Linked DNA regions of Homo sapiens. The protein of the gene in region 1 purifies or fractionates together with the protein of each later gene. This does not show direct contact. Each region holds a gene or a part of one and is shown in the gene's direction. Other genes may lie near its edges.

Region 1 (7,700 bases):
GTTTAAAAGTCCCTTTAAGATACAGCCCTGGCTTACTGCTCCAAACTCTTATTTGTCTATTTCCTATCTAGAACTCCAACATCTTTAATTCTTATACAATCTTCCCCTAGCTTCTGACAATCTCTTCTTTCCTAGGCCTGGAAAACTTCCCTTCCATTTTGCTACACATCCTTCTTGTTTCACAAGCCATGCTGATTGAGTTTAGACTTTAACCCAAGAAGAGCTATAAGGCTTTTAAGTGCTAAAGCAAAACGCTATTTGGAAAGATCATTACGGCTTCTGTATGGACAATGAAGGGAGGAAGGGGTGAGTGAACAAAAACTAGAGCTTGGAAGACCAGTTAGGATGCTGTTGCAGTAACTTGAACAAGAAACGTCTGGCCAGGTGCAGTGGCTCACATCTGTAATCTCAGCACTTTAGGAAGACAAGGAGGGCAGATTGCTTTAGCTCAGGAGTTCAAGACCAGCCTGGGCAACAGGGCAAAATCCCATCTCTACCAAAAAAACAAAAATTAGCCCAGCATGGTGGTGCATGCCTGTAGTCTCAGCTACTTGGGGAGGTCGAGGCCGCAGTGGGCCAAGATTTGCACTATTTCACTCAAGCCTGGGTGATAGAGTGAGACCCTGTCTCAATAAAAAAAAAGGAAAAGAAAAAGAAATGTCTTGGTCTAAGGAAAGAGTAGTGGGCAAAGATGCAAGATATTTAAGATAGTAGCTTTGAGAATTCATCATGGAGGATAAAAGAGAGGGAAGGGTAAAGAACAGTGGGCCGGGAACAGTGGCTCATGCCTGTAATCCCAGCACTTTGGGAGGCCGAGGCGGGCGGATCACTTGAGGTTAGGAGTTCAAGACCAGGCTGACCAACATGGTAAAATCCTGTCTCTACTAAAATTACAAAAATTAGCCGGATGTGTTGGTGCACGCCTGTAATCCTTGCTACTTGGGAGGCTGAGGCAGGAAAATCGCTTGAACCTGAAAGGCGGAGGTTGCAGTGAGCTGAGATGGCGCCACTGCACTCCAGCCTGGGCAAGAGAGGGAGACTCCGTCTCAAGAAAAAACAAAAACAAAAAAAACAGTGCCCAGATCAGATAAAGAAATTAACATTTATATATATTAATATGCAGTAAGCCCGGGCAAAGTTTGTATCTAATGCCCCTCCCCTTAATTTAGTTGAATCTGTATTACTTAGTCATTAAAGAGGGAAGGAATTTGAATTAATGGGTAGAAACAACATAAGAAACAACCATACGTGACATACCCTGCAAGTACCAAAATGGTTGCTACAAATTTGTAGATGAATTCTGGAAAGATTGATGAGGACTGAAAATGATTCATGGAATTGAAATTTAAGAGTCTGGGAAAGCACAGAATTTACACAAAGGATAAGAAAATTCTAGGACTCTGCTGTCCAATAAGGCAGCCACTAGAAATGTGGCTATTACAAGTTGAAATGTCATTTGTTAAAATATATACTGCATTCGATATAAAAAATTGTAAAATATCTAAAGAATTTTTCATCTTGACTCCATGTTGAAATGTATTTTGTGTATATAGGGTTAAATAAAATATATTAAAATGGGCTCACGCCTGTAATCCCAGCACTTTGGGAGGCTGAGACAGGCAGATCACTTGAGGTCAGGAGTTTGAGACCAGCTTGGCCAACATGGCAAAACCCTGACTCTACTAAAAAATACAAAAAAAAATTAGCCGGGTGTGGTGGAGTGTGCCTGTAATCCCAGCTACTTGGGGGGCTGAGGCAGGAGAATCACTTGAACCTGGAAAGTGGAGGGTGCAGTGAGCTGAGATCTTGCCACTGCACTCCAGCCTGGGCCACACAGAGCGAGACTCCATTTCAAAAACAAAGCAAAACAAACAAAAAACAACAACAAAAAAAACCTTTTATATATATATATATATATATATATATATATAAACACATTGCACCAGTTTTTTTTATTATTTTACTTTTTAAAATGTGGCTTATAGAAGACAAATTTACATTATATTTCCATTAGCCAGCAATGTTCTGGGAAAAATAATATAAATAAAATGTATATAATGAAAAACAAACTTTGGTGAATTAACCTGACTGGAACATAGCTAAGGATTCACAGGAGAGAAAAATCAAAGTTAGGGCTGAAGAGGTAGAAGGGATAGCAGTATTCAGGATTTGAATGAAAAGGGATTTCAGACTGGACAGACTGGATTTAACATCTCTAGAGATGCCATTTTTGCCTTTGTTGCCACTTTTGCCTTTTAGAGACCATAAAAGTGACATTTAAGAAAAATCAACCTGCCAACGGTACACAAATGGAAAGAAGTGGAAGAGCAAAGATTTTAGAGATTTGCCATTTTAGAGGTACAGGTACCATGATTGCAAGAAAAATTCTGGTCCTTGCCTTGATTCTAGGGAGTTGATACTCAATATCATCTGAATCTTTTTTGCTGAGTCTACAGCTTTTTTTTTTTTTTTTTTTTTTTTTTGAGACAGAGTCTCTCTCTGTCGCCAGGCTGGAGTGCAGTGGCGCGATCCCGGCTCACTGCAGCCTCTGACTCCCCGGTTCAAGTGATTCTCCTGCCTCAGGTTCCCGAGTAGCTAGGATTACAGGCATACGCCACCACGTCCAGCAAATTTTTGCATTTTTAGTAGAGCCGGGGTTTCACCATGTTGGTCAGGATGATCTCGATCTCCTGACCTCGTGATCCGCCCGCCTGGGACTCCCAAAGTGCTGGGGATTACAGGCGTGAGCCACAGCGCCCGGCCTGAGTCTACAGCTTTTTAAAATCTGAATTCAGTTACTTTCTATGTGGAAAAGAATGTACCCAGCAGCCACAAAAGCAATTTGCCTCACTATACATATAGCAACTGGGTGTGTGGAAAAAACCAGCATTTGTTTTTTTCCAGCATAAATAGCAAGAACAATCTTTCCTGATAGTGCAACTTTTTTGCCTAAAGGTTTTGGAGTTCTTCAAAGCCATCGTGGCATCAAAGACTACTGGAACGAACACACACACACACACACACACACACACACACACACACACACCATCATGGCATCAAAGACTACCTAAAAACAGCCCCCCTCCCCAGCCATCATGGAATCAGACTACTTCAACACGCGCGCGCACACACATACACACCCATGACATCAAAGACTACTTAAACACGCACACGCACGTACACACACCCCAAGCTATCGTGGCATCAAAGACTACTTCACGCGCGCGTGCACACACACACACACACCATGGCATCAAAGACTACTTACACACACGCCCCCTAGACAGGTTTTTCTTTTTCTTTTTTGAGACGGAGTCTCGCTTTGTCGCCCAGGCTGGAGTGCAATGGCGCGATCTCGGCTCACTGCAACCTCCGCCTCCGGGTTCAAGCGATTCTCCTACCTCAGCCTCCTGAGTAGCTGGGGATTACAGGCGCGCGCCACCACGTCCAGCTAATTTTTTGTATTTTTAGTAAGAGACGGGGTTTCGCCATGTTGGCCAGGCTGGTCTCGTACTACTGACCTCAGGTGATCCGCCCGCCTTGGCCTCCCAAAGTGCTGGGATTACAGGCGTGAGCCACCAGGCCCGGCCTCTAGACAGGTCTTTCAAAAGTTTCAATTATTAACCTTCTTAGAAAGGTCATTAACCTAACGGGCAAAGCAAGACTCAGGTTTTGACGAATCAAGACTGATTTGCTTGTATTTTGCAATAGCTATTGATTATAAATAATACTTCCAGGCACCTTTCCACCCCTTGGCCATTTCTCGTTCTCCTCTACTTTGCTCCTTCTCCCCATCCCCGAGGCAGTAAAGTTCGGGGAGGCCCGGGAGCGCCTGGGCCACGTGTGCGCCCGCGCGGCTGCCTAGAGGCGCTGCTGCAGGGAGGCGGGACAGAGTTTCGCGGCTCGCACGTGGCCGCGAGCTCACGGCCTGGGGGTCAGGGAGACCGTGAAGGGCCCGGATCCCTGTTACTCACCCTCAGCTGTCGCCATTATCCTAAGTGGGCTGAGGGCTGCGACCGCGCCGGGAAGCGAGGCAGAACTCTAGAAAAGAGGGGTGGTCAGAGAGCTTCGCTGGGCGGGGAAGGAGGCGGGGCCGCGCGACCCTGCGCCACTCTTTTCGAGCTCCGCTACAGCCGCCTAACCCGGAGGGGTATGGGCGGAGACTGAAACGCGGATATCGGACGAAACAACGCCCCACTGGCTTCCCGCCGCGCAGGCGCAGAGACGCGACCCCGCCTCCGGGCCGCCCCGCGCTGGCGCAGTGCCCGGACAGGCGAAAAGTGGCGCGCACTGGCGGCCCCTCCCCACTCTGCGGAAGCTCGCATACCCCGGCCCCTTCTCGGCTGCGGGAGCGACTCAGAAGTTGGAGCGTACCAAGTCTTGACGGCCTGGGGGAAGCATGCAGGGAAGGGCATATGAAGGCTAAATGCTCTGAAAGAGAAATGAGGTTAAGTCCGTTACTCCCATTACGCTACTGTTGGGTGCTGGAAAATAACGGAGATTTCCACGTGCAGCAAATACAGCTTTCCAGGCAGCTCTTAGGGGAAGGCTAGCTCCACCCTACAGCATCCGTGACCCCGCCCCTCAGCCGCGGGACCGCCCCTCCGCCCTCGCTCGTTGGTGGACTCGGAGGGGGAGGAGCAGGGCTGAGCTGGCCACGCCACCTAGGGACAGCGCGCGCCGCCGCAGTAGCTGGGGCCACCCTCGGGAAGGAAGAGCCTGTCGCGAGCGCGAGCTTCTGAGCTCGACGGGCCGAGCTGGCAGCTGGTTGGTGCTTACACCTTGGCCGCAGCGGCAGGTCCTTCCACGTGCTTTCGGCGGCGACATGGAGCTGGAGGAGTTGGGGATCCGAGAGGAATGTGGCGTGTTCGGGTGCATCGCCTCAGGAGAGTGGCCCACGCAGCTGGATGTACCGCATGTGATCACTCTGGGACTCGTGGGGCTGCAGCACCGGTGAGCAACAGGGTGGGGGTGGCGGGGGCGTGCGTCTCCATCTCTCGGAGCCGCTTCCCGCAGTCGGCGTTCTCATGAGCGCCCGAGGGCCCGGGAGGACCGACCTCTCCGACCTAAGCCAGTACCTGCCTGTGGCGTCGACCGGGTTGCCTAGGCGTGCACGAGGGGCACCTCGCTTCCATGAACTTTAGCCTGTCCTGCCCACCCTCCCAGCCACTTATGCCTTTTAGGGGCTCTCTCCCTCCCCGCCCCCCGGTGTGTGCACCCATCCAGAGGCTGGCCAGCTTGTAAACCGCCGGTTTGCTTGGTCTAGCTGGGTCAGGGCTCCTCCCCGACTGCAGGCGGGTTCTAGTCTCCCGGAGCCTGTGGCTGCTCCTGTAATAGGCTAGTGTGGCGTGGCGGCCAGTCCAGGTCCTTCAACACCTAAAGGTTTTCGCGCGGGGCCTCCAACCACCACAAGCTTTTGTTTGCAAGGGCAGAGCTATTGAGCAGATTATGGGTTTGAAAGTAGTTATCGCTATGGGAACTTGAGGATGCTAGACTTCAGACCCAGGGAAAGATGACTAGTTGATGTTGAGAATGACTACTGGTAGTAGATCTCACATAAATTAAATGGAAATAAGCCAACCATAGGGAACAGTGCATCTGGAAAAGATTCATTGGTAGACGTCTTGCCTAATGAATGAAAACGTTGGTAATAACATGACAAAAATTAACTCCCTTCTTCAAAAGGGGGACAGGGGAGTAGTGTCTCTATGCCAAGATCCATACACTTGATTTTGAAAAATTGGGAGATCCTTTCGAGTTAAAAAAAATTACTTTGCTTCGGTGATCTTTCCTTTTCTTACTACCTGACTTAACTGGAAGTTGATATAAATTATTACACTAGGATAAGAAAAACAAACCTGGGTTTGATATTCTTACTGAAAGTATTACAGTTTCCATAAGGCAATACAGTGGTAACAACTTACACTACAGTTAAGGAACTTGGCAATAACACGTAACAGCAAAATGGGTGCAACACGTATAAACGCATTCCAAAAGATTAGCTTTTCCTCCACCAAACTTAAATTAGAAGTATTTTTTGCTGTTTTCATTGTCCCAGGTACTTCAATTTCAGTTTCACATTTTGTGTGTTCCTTGTTTACTAAAGAGCTGAGAATGTGGGAAGCATCAAAAAGAATATTTTTAACTTGCGTAGCTCCAATCTTGGATAATTGTGGGTTGACCATAATAGATTTCTTGTTTTTTTTAAAAAAAGTTTATTGAGAAAATTAGTTACGTAATCCAAGGAGAAAGTAAACTCTTGATTATGTGGTAGTTGTGAGCAACATTAGTTTGTAACATTCTTAGAAACTATGGCCAGGCGCGGTGGCTCACGCCTGTAATCCCAGCACTTTGGGAGGCCGAGGCGGGCGGATCACGAGGTTAAGAGATCGAGACCATCCTGGCCAACATGGTGAAACCCCATCTCTGCTAAAAATACAATTAGCTGGGTGTGGTGATGCGCTCCTGTAGTCCTAGCTACTCCGGAGGCTGAGGCAGGAGAATCGCTTGAACCCGGGAGGCTTAGGTTCCAGAGAGCAGAGATCACGCCACTGCACTCCAGCCTGGGCGACAGAGCGAGACTCCGTCTCAAAAAAAAAAAAACAGTTGTTATTTTGGATACTCTGTCATGGGGGTGAGGGAGAATCTAGAGGTCTTTAGGGTTGCCTGGTGGTCTGTAGAAAATATGTATGAACTGTACTTCACTATATTTACTTTTTTTGCCAAAGTTATTCAAGAAATTTTCATCCCCCTTTCTCCTTCCCTTTAAATGTGTGCCTGAAGAAAAAGAGGCTTTTTTTTTTTTTTAACTTACATGTTAGCACTGGTTGGAGTTTTAGTACCCAGTTTAGGAAAATACTTGGTATTCATGGTTATAGGTTTTTTTTTTCTTTTTTTTTTTTTTTAATGAATACCATTTGATTCCTGGTTACATATATCTGTTTTCTATAGTTGCTTTTCTGTGAAAGAATTGTAAGATTAAATAATACCAGATAAGGGCAATAATGATGTGATTATGTGGTTTTGAGGAACAAATGTATTACTGAAAAACAATTTAACATTTCTCTTGTGTAGGCATAGAATCATTAAGGTGCACAAAGAGGGCTGGTTCTCACCCATAATCAATTCAAAATTTTACATGAGCTAAAGTGCTCATCCTTTGGGAGGACTGATTCTGCTTGGAAGAACAATGACACTCCCTTATGTCTTGGAAATACAATTATCTGCTGCTCGAAACTGATAGATAAGGGCCAGAATAAAACTAAGAACTTTTTCTTTTAGTTTAGTTTTATATATATATATATAAAATACGTGTGTGTATGTATATATGTATATATATATCGTACTCTGAGAAGTGGTGGTCTGTTGCAGAAAGCTCTGTTTTCACTTTCTCACCCTCATTCACTCACTGGTTAGTTTTAAAACAACTGCAAAAAGGTTTGATTGTGTTTTTTTCCTTTTTGATGAAGGAATTTATTTCTTATATATTATCTTCTTGATTTTTTTTTTTTTTTTGAGACAGAGTCTCGCTGTCTCCCAGGCTGGGGTGGAGTTCAGTGGCGCAGTCTCCCCTCACTGCAAGCTCCGCCTCCCGGGTTCACGCCATTCTCCTGCCTCAGCCTCCCGAGTAGCTGGGACTACAGGCGCCCCCCACCACGCCCGGCTAATTTTTTGTATTTTTAGTAGAAACGGGGTTTCAC
Region 2 (7,030 bases), on another chromosome or scaffold:
CCCAAAGTGCTGGAATTATAAGCATGAGCCACCGCACCTAGCCAAGTTAAAAAAAAAAAAAAAGAAACTTGTGGAAATCGTAAATCACTTCACGGTGTGAAATACTGTTGCTATTTGAAATCATATGTCAAATATGCTCTCTTCTAGGGTTTCCTGAGGCTCAAGCTCTAGGACTGGAGGTGTTCCATGCAGGCACTGCCCTCAAAAATGGCAAAGTAGTAACTCATGGGGGTAGAGTTCTTGCAGTCACAGCCATCCGGGAAAATCTCATATCAGCCCTTGAGGAAGCCAAGAAAGGACTAGCTGCTATAAAGTTTGAGGGAGCAATTTATAGGAAAGACGTCGGCTTTCGTGCCATAGCTTTCCTCCAGCAGCCCAGGTAAAACTCTAAGCAAGTTAGCTGTAGTGCCATTTCAGAAACTGGCCTAAATGGCTATGTAGAACATTTCATTAACCCTATAAGTCATTCAGTATTCTTTTCTCTCTGTGGGAGTGATACAGTCTTGGTTTGTATTTTGTTTGAATCAAAACTGGTTATAGCAATACTCAAATGGAAAAAACTTCATGATAGCGTAAGTTTGGAAAGTTTAGCAAAATCACAGTGGTACTGATTTTTATTTGTTTTCTATTTTTTTTATTTTATATTTTTAATTTTTTTAACAGGGTCTTCCTCTCTCGCCCAAGTTCTCATGCCTCAGCCTCCCAAATAGCTGGGACTACAGGCACAGGCCACCACACCTGGCTAATTTTTTTGTATTTTTTGTGGAGATGGGGTTTCACCATGTTGCCAAGGCCAGTCTGAAATCCTGGGCTCAAGTGATCCTCCTGCTTTGGCCTCCCAAAATGCTGGGATTATAGGCATGAGCCGCTGCACTTGGCCTGATACTGATTTTTATTCCTTGCGTTATCACATAGTGTTGTATTTGAAACATAGTTCATGGTTTTATCAAAGAACTGAAGATGAGAATACTGGTCATCTAACTTTGTAATTTGATTTGATTATACTGTAAAGTTTGACAGTCTCATTTTATCACTGCGTTTGTATCTATTACTAAAATGTATTTTTTGACCTCTTACTGATTCATTGTTGGTATGTACAAACTGTTGACTTGTAAAATCAATAAAGTCTTAGTTGGAAATGTGGGTGTTTTGATTTCTTTTTTTTTTTTTTTTTTTTTTTGAGACAGAATTTTGCTCTTGTCGCCCAGGCTGGAGTGCAGTGGCATGATCTCGCCTCACTGCAACCTCCACCTCCCGGGTTCAAGTGATTCCCCTTCCTCAGCCTCCTGAGTAGCTGGGATTACAGGTGCCTGCCACCGTGCCCAGCTAATTTTTGTGTTTTTGGTAGACATGGGGTTTCACCATGTTGGCCGGGCTGGTCTCGAACTCCTGACCTCAGGTGATCTGCCTGCCTCAGCCTCACCAAGTACTGGGATTACAGGCGTGAGCCACCGTGCCCGGCCTGATTTCTTAAAAATATATCACATTTGCTATTGTTCGTGAAGTTCATTTACGGATAATGAATAAATTTTAAGACAAAATTTTTTTACCAACGTAATTCAAGCTATACTGTTACCAAGAGGCAGGTTTTTTTAAAGTTTAAACACAGATTTTCCAAGAATCAAGAACATCAAAATACCAGGCTAAAAATTTATTTTTCATTTAAAAATGACTAGATTCCATTGAAATGACCTATTTCAAGGGACTGCAATCTCAATTCTAGTCTGAATTATTTAAGTTATAAAGATGAAAAAATGGAAATGCCACAGTGTTAGTTGCTACTGGAGAAAAGGTTTTTTAACATCAGTCTTTGTTTTCTATCTGAGAGTGACCCAGAGCTGCTGGCTTTATTTGAGTTAACTGCCAATGCACTCAACTGTATTCTGGCAGCTTTTTTGTTTTTTGTTTTTGTATGCTTTTTTTAAAGACACTTCTATAAAAACACATATTTCTTCATGTATCACTGCATCCCAGCAGGCCAGAGTTCTCATTTTTGCAAGTCAAGACTACAAAATCTGCAGTGTCATTCAAAAATTTGATCTCTAAATGTACTGCTCCGACTTGTGGGTCCTATACAGAAGGAAATGATGCACTGAGTATCTTTACCTGGTTTTGCTTTTGTCATAGTGTTTACTGTCCTCAGCTATTAGGAAACAGATACAGTTATATATTACTGAAATTAAGAACTCAGTTTAATTATTTAGGGATACTTGTGTACGGTTTTTACAAATCTAATTTTCACTTTTTTGACTTGATTAGGCATTCCTCTCTTGTTCATACCAAAATTGAACTGAGAAAAGTTGCAGCAAAATGTCAGTATATCTACTTTTAAACAGATGGTTGCCAGGGTCTGGGGTAGTGGGGAATGGGGAGTTATTTAACTGGGACAGACGTTCAGTTTTACAAGATAAAGGATTATGGAGATGGATGATGGTGCCGGGTGCACAGCATTATAATTGTATTCAATACTATTGAACTGTTCACTTAAAAATGGTTAAGATGCTGAATTTTATGTTGTGTATATTCTACCTTAATAAAAAATCATTTAAAAGAATCAGTATATTTAGCAGCCTGTGAGAAGTACTTGTAGAAGAAATAGGTGATTGAGTTAGAATAGCGGTTCTCAGGGATGATGTAATCAAGTCAACTGGGGAGATGGTTCAAACTCATTTCAATTCCCAGAGCCTGCCCTAGACCAGTTAAATCAGAATCTGTATAGATGTGGCCCAGGCACTGACTTTAAAAAAATTTAAGCACTTTAGGGTATGTGAAAATCACTTGGGATATCTTCTGCTTTAAATAATATTTTAAGATTAAAATAATTTTCCCTGACGTTTAGGTGATGACTTGTTTTTAATTCTTTAGGAGTTTGACTTACAAGGAATCTGGAGTAGATATCGCAGCTGGAAATATGCTGGTCAAGAAAATTCAGCCTTTAGCAAAAGCCACTTCCAGATCAGGTCAGTGATCCTATACTTTGCTAATTCATTAACTTTGATATACATTGTGAATGGATTTGGGTTTTATATTTAACAGGAATATTTTCCAAAGCAATGCTTGGTTACTGTAAGTTTTGCCCTGCTTAAGCCAAACCCAGTCTTCTGCTTTCTTTTCTTTAATATTAAAGTATTTCTCATCTGTCATGTTAAACTCAAAAGGATATGTATGCTCCTTTACTTTTTTTTTTTTTTTTTTTGAGACAAGAGTCTTGCCCAGGCTGGAGTGCAATGGCACCATCTCGGCTCACTGCAACCTCTGCATCCTGATTTCAAGCGATTCTCCTGCCTCAGTCTCCCAAGTAATTGGGATTATAGGCACCCACCATCATGCCTGGCTAATTTTTGTATTTTTGTAGAGACATGATTTCACCATGTTGGCCAAGCTGGTCTTGAACTCCTGACCTCAGGCAATCTGCCCACCTCAGCCTCCCAAAGTGCTGGGATTATAGGCATGAGCCACCATGTCTGGCTGGTCCTTTAGTATTTAATTACTTCCTTTTTTTTTTTTTTTTTTTTTGAGACAAAGTCTGGCTCTGTCGCCCAGGCTGGAGTGCAGTGGTGCCATTTCGGCTAGCTGCAAGCTCTGCCTCCTGCATTCACGCCATTCTCCTGCCTCAGCCTCCCGAGTAGCTGGGACTACAGGTGCCCGCCACCACGCCCAGCTAATTTTTTTGTATTTTTAGTAGAGACGGGGTTTCACTGTGTTAACCAGGATGGTCTCGATCTCCTGACCTTGTGATCCACCCGCCTCGGCCTCCCAAAGTGCTGGGATTACAGGGGTGAGCCACCACGCCCAGCCTTAATTACTTTCTTAATCAATTCTTTGAGCACATGGTGCAATCTCTCATACTCAGGAAGGGCATCTCTTGTTTCAGCCATTCTTATGAACAAGTGGTATGTATATACATGTTTAACCTATTAACATGTTACATGTTAATCTATTAAATGATTACATTCTCCCAGTTGATTTGATTATGTCATCTCTGAGAACAGCTGTTCCAATCATCTATTTCTTCCAGAAGTACATCTCACAGGCCGCTAAATATACTGGTTTTTTTAAACTAGTAGACATTTAAATAATTACATGTTTAATCTATTAAAATGTAGCAAGTAATTAATTTCCTCTCCAACAGGCTGTAAAGTTGATCTTGGAGGTTTTGCTGGTCTTTTTGATTTAAAAGCAGCTGGTTTCAAAGATCCCCTTCTGGCCTCTGGAACAGATGGCGTTGGAACTAAACTAAAGGTAATCAGACACCTTTGTGAATAAAGGCCTTTTAGGAAAGATGAGGAAATTTATATCAAATATGTATTTTTCTTCTCTTGACATATATGAGCTAAAAAGGACCATGCCAAATAACCATGTAAAATGGCTAAAATATCTGCACATTTCTAATAACAAATTATTATTTAGATTATATTTGGATGGAAGGGTACTTTAGAGGATAAAAGGGGATGCTTTTAGACCAAGTAGCTTGTCAGAATTTCGTGTTCTTTTGTTTTTAGGTGTTAAGAGCAGCTAATCAAATGGATAAGATACAATTTTGAACTTATTCCCTAATGTGGATGTTTATATTGTTCTTACATAGATTGCCCAGCTATGCAATAAACATGATACCATTGGTCAAGATTTGGTAGCAATGTGTGTTAATGATATTCTGGCACAAGGAGCAGAGCCCCTCTTCTTCCTTGATTACTTTTCCTGTGGAAAACTTGACCTCAGTGTAACTGAAGCTGTTGTTGCTGGAATTGCTAAAGCTTGTGGAAAAGCTGGATGTGCTCTCCTTGGTATGATCAGCCATTTTAATCAATAACATGTCATTCTTCTTTTTGTGTTTTAGCCCTATGTAAAAATGTGATCAGTGCCAATGTAGCTAGCAAGAGAGACTGTATATCACAAGATGCATATATGTGATATGCACAAATGAAATATAGGTAAAACTACCTGAATTAAATTTAGAGCCTGCTACCTTCAAAGCCCTCCTCAGGGGTTTGTCCTCTAGACCCGTACTCCCAAACTGTCAGGCAGGCCTTATCTTTCTTCCCAATTTTTGGCCACCTTTTAACATCCCCATCAGTCTCAGTAGCCTCCTCAACAAACAGGTCTAGGAGTTATTTCCTCCTTATTGACCCCACGGTACAGGCAGATGGGTTCCTGGCATTCCGGATCTTAACTAAAGCCAAATTTTCCCATAGAGTGACATAAATAATAATATACGCCCAAGTTTTATAGAAGTATCTTTATACATGAAATGTTTGAGCAAAATGAATCTGTAGGTTGATCAAGGAACAAAATAACCTCTTTTTTTAATTTAAAAAAAAAAAAAAGGGAATCTCTCTCTGTCACCCAGGTTGGAGTGCAGTGGTTCAATCACAGCTCACTGCAGCCTTGACCTCCTGGGTTCAAGGGATCCTCCTGCTTCAGCCTCCCAAGTAGTTGGGAACTACAGGCATGTGTCACCAACCCAGCTAATTTTTGTACTTTTTGTAGAGATAGGGTTTTGCCATGTTGCCCAGGCTGGTCTTGAATTGCTGGGCTCAAGCTATCTTCCCATCACAGCCTCCCAAAGACACTGCCTCTTTTTTTTTTTTTTTTTTTAAACAGAGTCTTGCTCTGTCACGCAGTCTGGAGTGCAGTGGCGCAATCTTGGCTCACTGCAAGCTCTGCCTCCTGGGTTCACACCATTCTCCTGCCTCAGCCTCCCGAGTAGCTGGGACTACAGGTGCCCGCCACCACACCCGGCTAATTTTTTCTATTTTTCAGTAGAGATGGGGTTTCACCGTGTTAGCCAGGATGGTCTCAATCTCCTGATCTCGTGATCTGCCTGCCTCGGCCTCCCAAAGTGCTGGGATTACAGGCATGAGCCACCGTGCCCGGCCAGAAACTGCCTCTTTTATATGACCATTTAAACCAGAAATTGTGCCATCTTGCATCTGCACATGTGTGCATCTAATCTCAGCTGGTCTACCCAGGACCCCTTGAGCACCAACCCTAGTCCTCCACATGACCCTTTTCCACGCTGACAAGATGAAAGAAACAACCAAATTGCAGGCACAATTGCGTAATGATGGAAAAGAAACAGAAAGAAGGTGGTTCAGCTACAGCAGATGATAAAAACTTCAGTTCTCCTTAAGAAGTTAAGGGTAAACAATATCTCTGGTATTGAAGGGGTGAGTATGTTTACAAATGAAGACCAGAGATCCACTTTAACAACCTAAAATGCTGGTAGCATTTCTCTGGGGCAGTGAACACTTTCACCATTACAGGCCATGCTGAGACAACGCAGCTGATAGAAATGCTACCAGCATCTTAAACCAGCTTGGTGCAGACAATCTGACTAGTTTAAGGAGACCGACTGAAGCTCTGCCCAAATAGTCTGTGGATGGAAAAGCACTGCTTGCTAATGGAGGGGATGGTGATGAAGTTCTAGATCTTGTAAGGAGTTTTGATGAGGCTATTAAGAATGAGGCAAACTGAATTGAGTCAACTTCTGAAGAAGAAAAAATATGAAGTAACTAGGAGCTGCTATTTTACATTATGACTGCTTTCTGAAATTGTTTATGGATCTGATAAAATTTAGATCTCTAATATTTTAAGCCCCATTCCTGTTGGACACTGCAGCTCTTTTCAGTTTTTGCTTATACACAATTTCTTCTTTTTTTTTTTTCTTTTTGAGATGGAGTCTTGCTCTGTGACCCAGGCTGGAGTGCAGTGGCACAATCTCGGCTCGCTGCAACCCCCACCTCCCAGGTTCAAGCAATTCTCCTGCCTCATCCTCCCAAGTAGCTGGGATTACAGGCATAAGCCACCACACCTGGTTAATTTTTGTGTTTTTAGTAGAGACAGAGTTTCGCCATGTTGGCCGGGATAGTCTCGAACTCCTGACCTGATCCACCTGCCTCGGCCTCCCAAAGTGCTGGGATTACAGGCGTGAGCCACGATGCCCAGCCCACAATTTATTCTTTGTAGCTAATTAAGCTAAAGAAGCCTGGGAATAAAGTTTGAAACAAACAAAAATTGCCTTTCAACCACC

What was found. Proteins that work in one complex are often made in the same cells at the same time.
Region 2: the proteins of PPAT (region 1) and GART fractionate together in Homo sapiens (co-fractionation; 2 studies listed by BioGRID). This does not show direct contact.

What each region holds. Positions count from the first base shown.
Region 1 is NC_000004.12:56,432,603-56,440,302, reverse strand, and holds the start of PPAT (amidophosphoribosyltransferase), read left to right. Parts: upstream 1-4,687; 5' UTR 4,688-4,825; coding exon 4,826-4,953; intron 4,954-5,358; exon of another isoform or gene 5,359-6,473; coding exon of another isoform or gene 6,474-6,587; intron 6,588-7,700. Other genes in the region: PAICS (bifunctional phosphoribosylaminoimidazole carboxylase/phosphoribosylaminoimidazole succinocarboxamide synthetase), read right to left, coding at 3,975-4,041. UniProt on the Homo sapiens protein: Catalyzes the formation of phosphoribosylamine from phosphoribosylpyrophosphate (PRPP) and glutamine.
Region 2 is NC_000021.9:33,518,118-33,525,147, reverse strand, and holds part of GART (trifunctional purine biosynthetic protein adenosine-3), read left to right. Parts: intron 1-147; coding exon 148-379; coding exon of another isoform or gene 380-383; exon of another isoform or gene 384-1,139; intron 1,140-2,865; coding exon 2,866-2,960; intron 2,961-4,132; coding exon 4,133-4,242; intron 4,243-4,585; coding exon 4,586-4,784; intron 4,785-7,030. UniProt on the Homo sapiens protein: Trifunctional enzyme that catalyzes three distinct reactions as part of the 'de novo' inosine monophosphate biosynthetic pathway.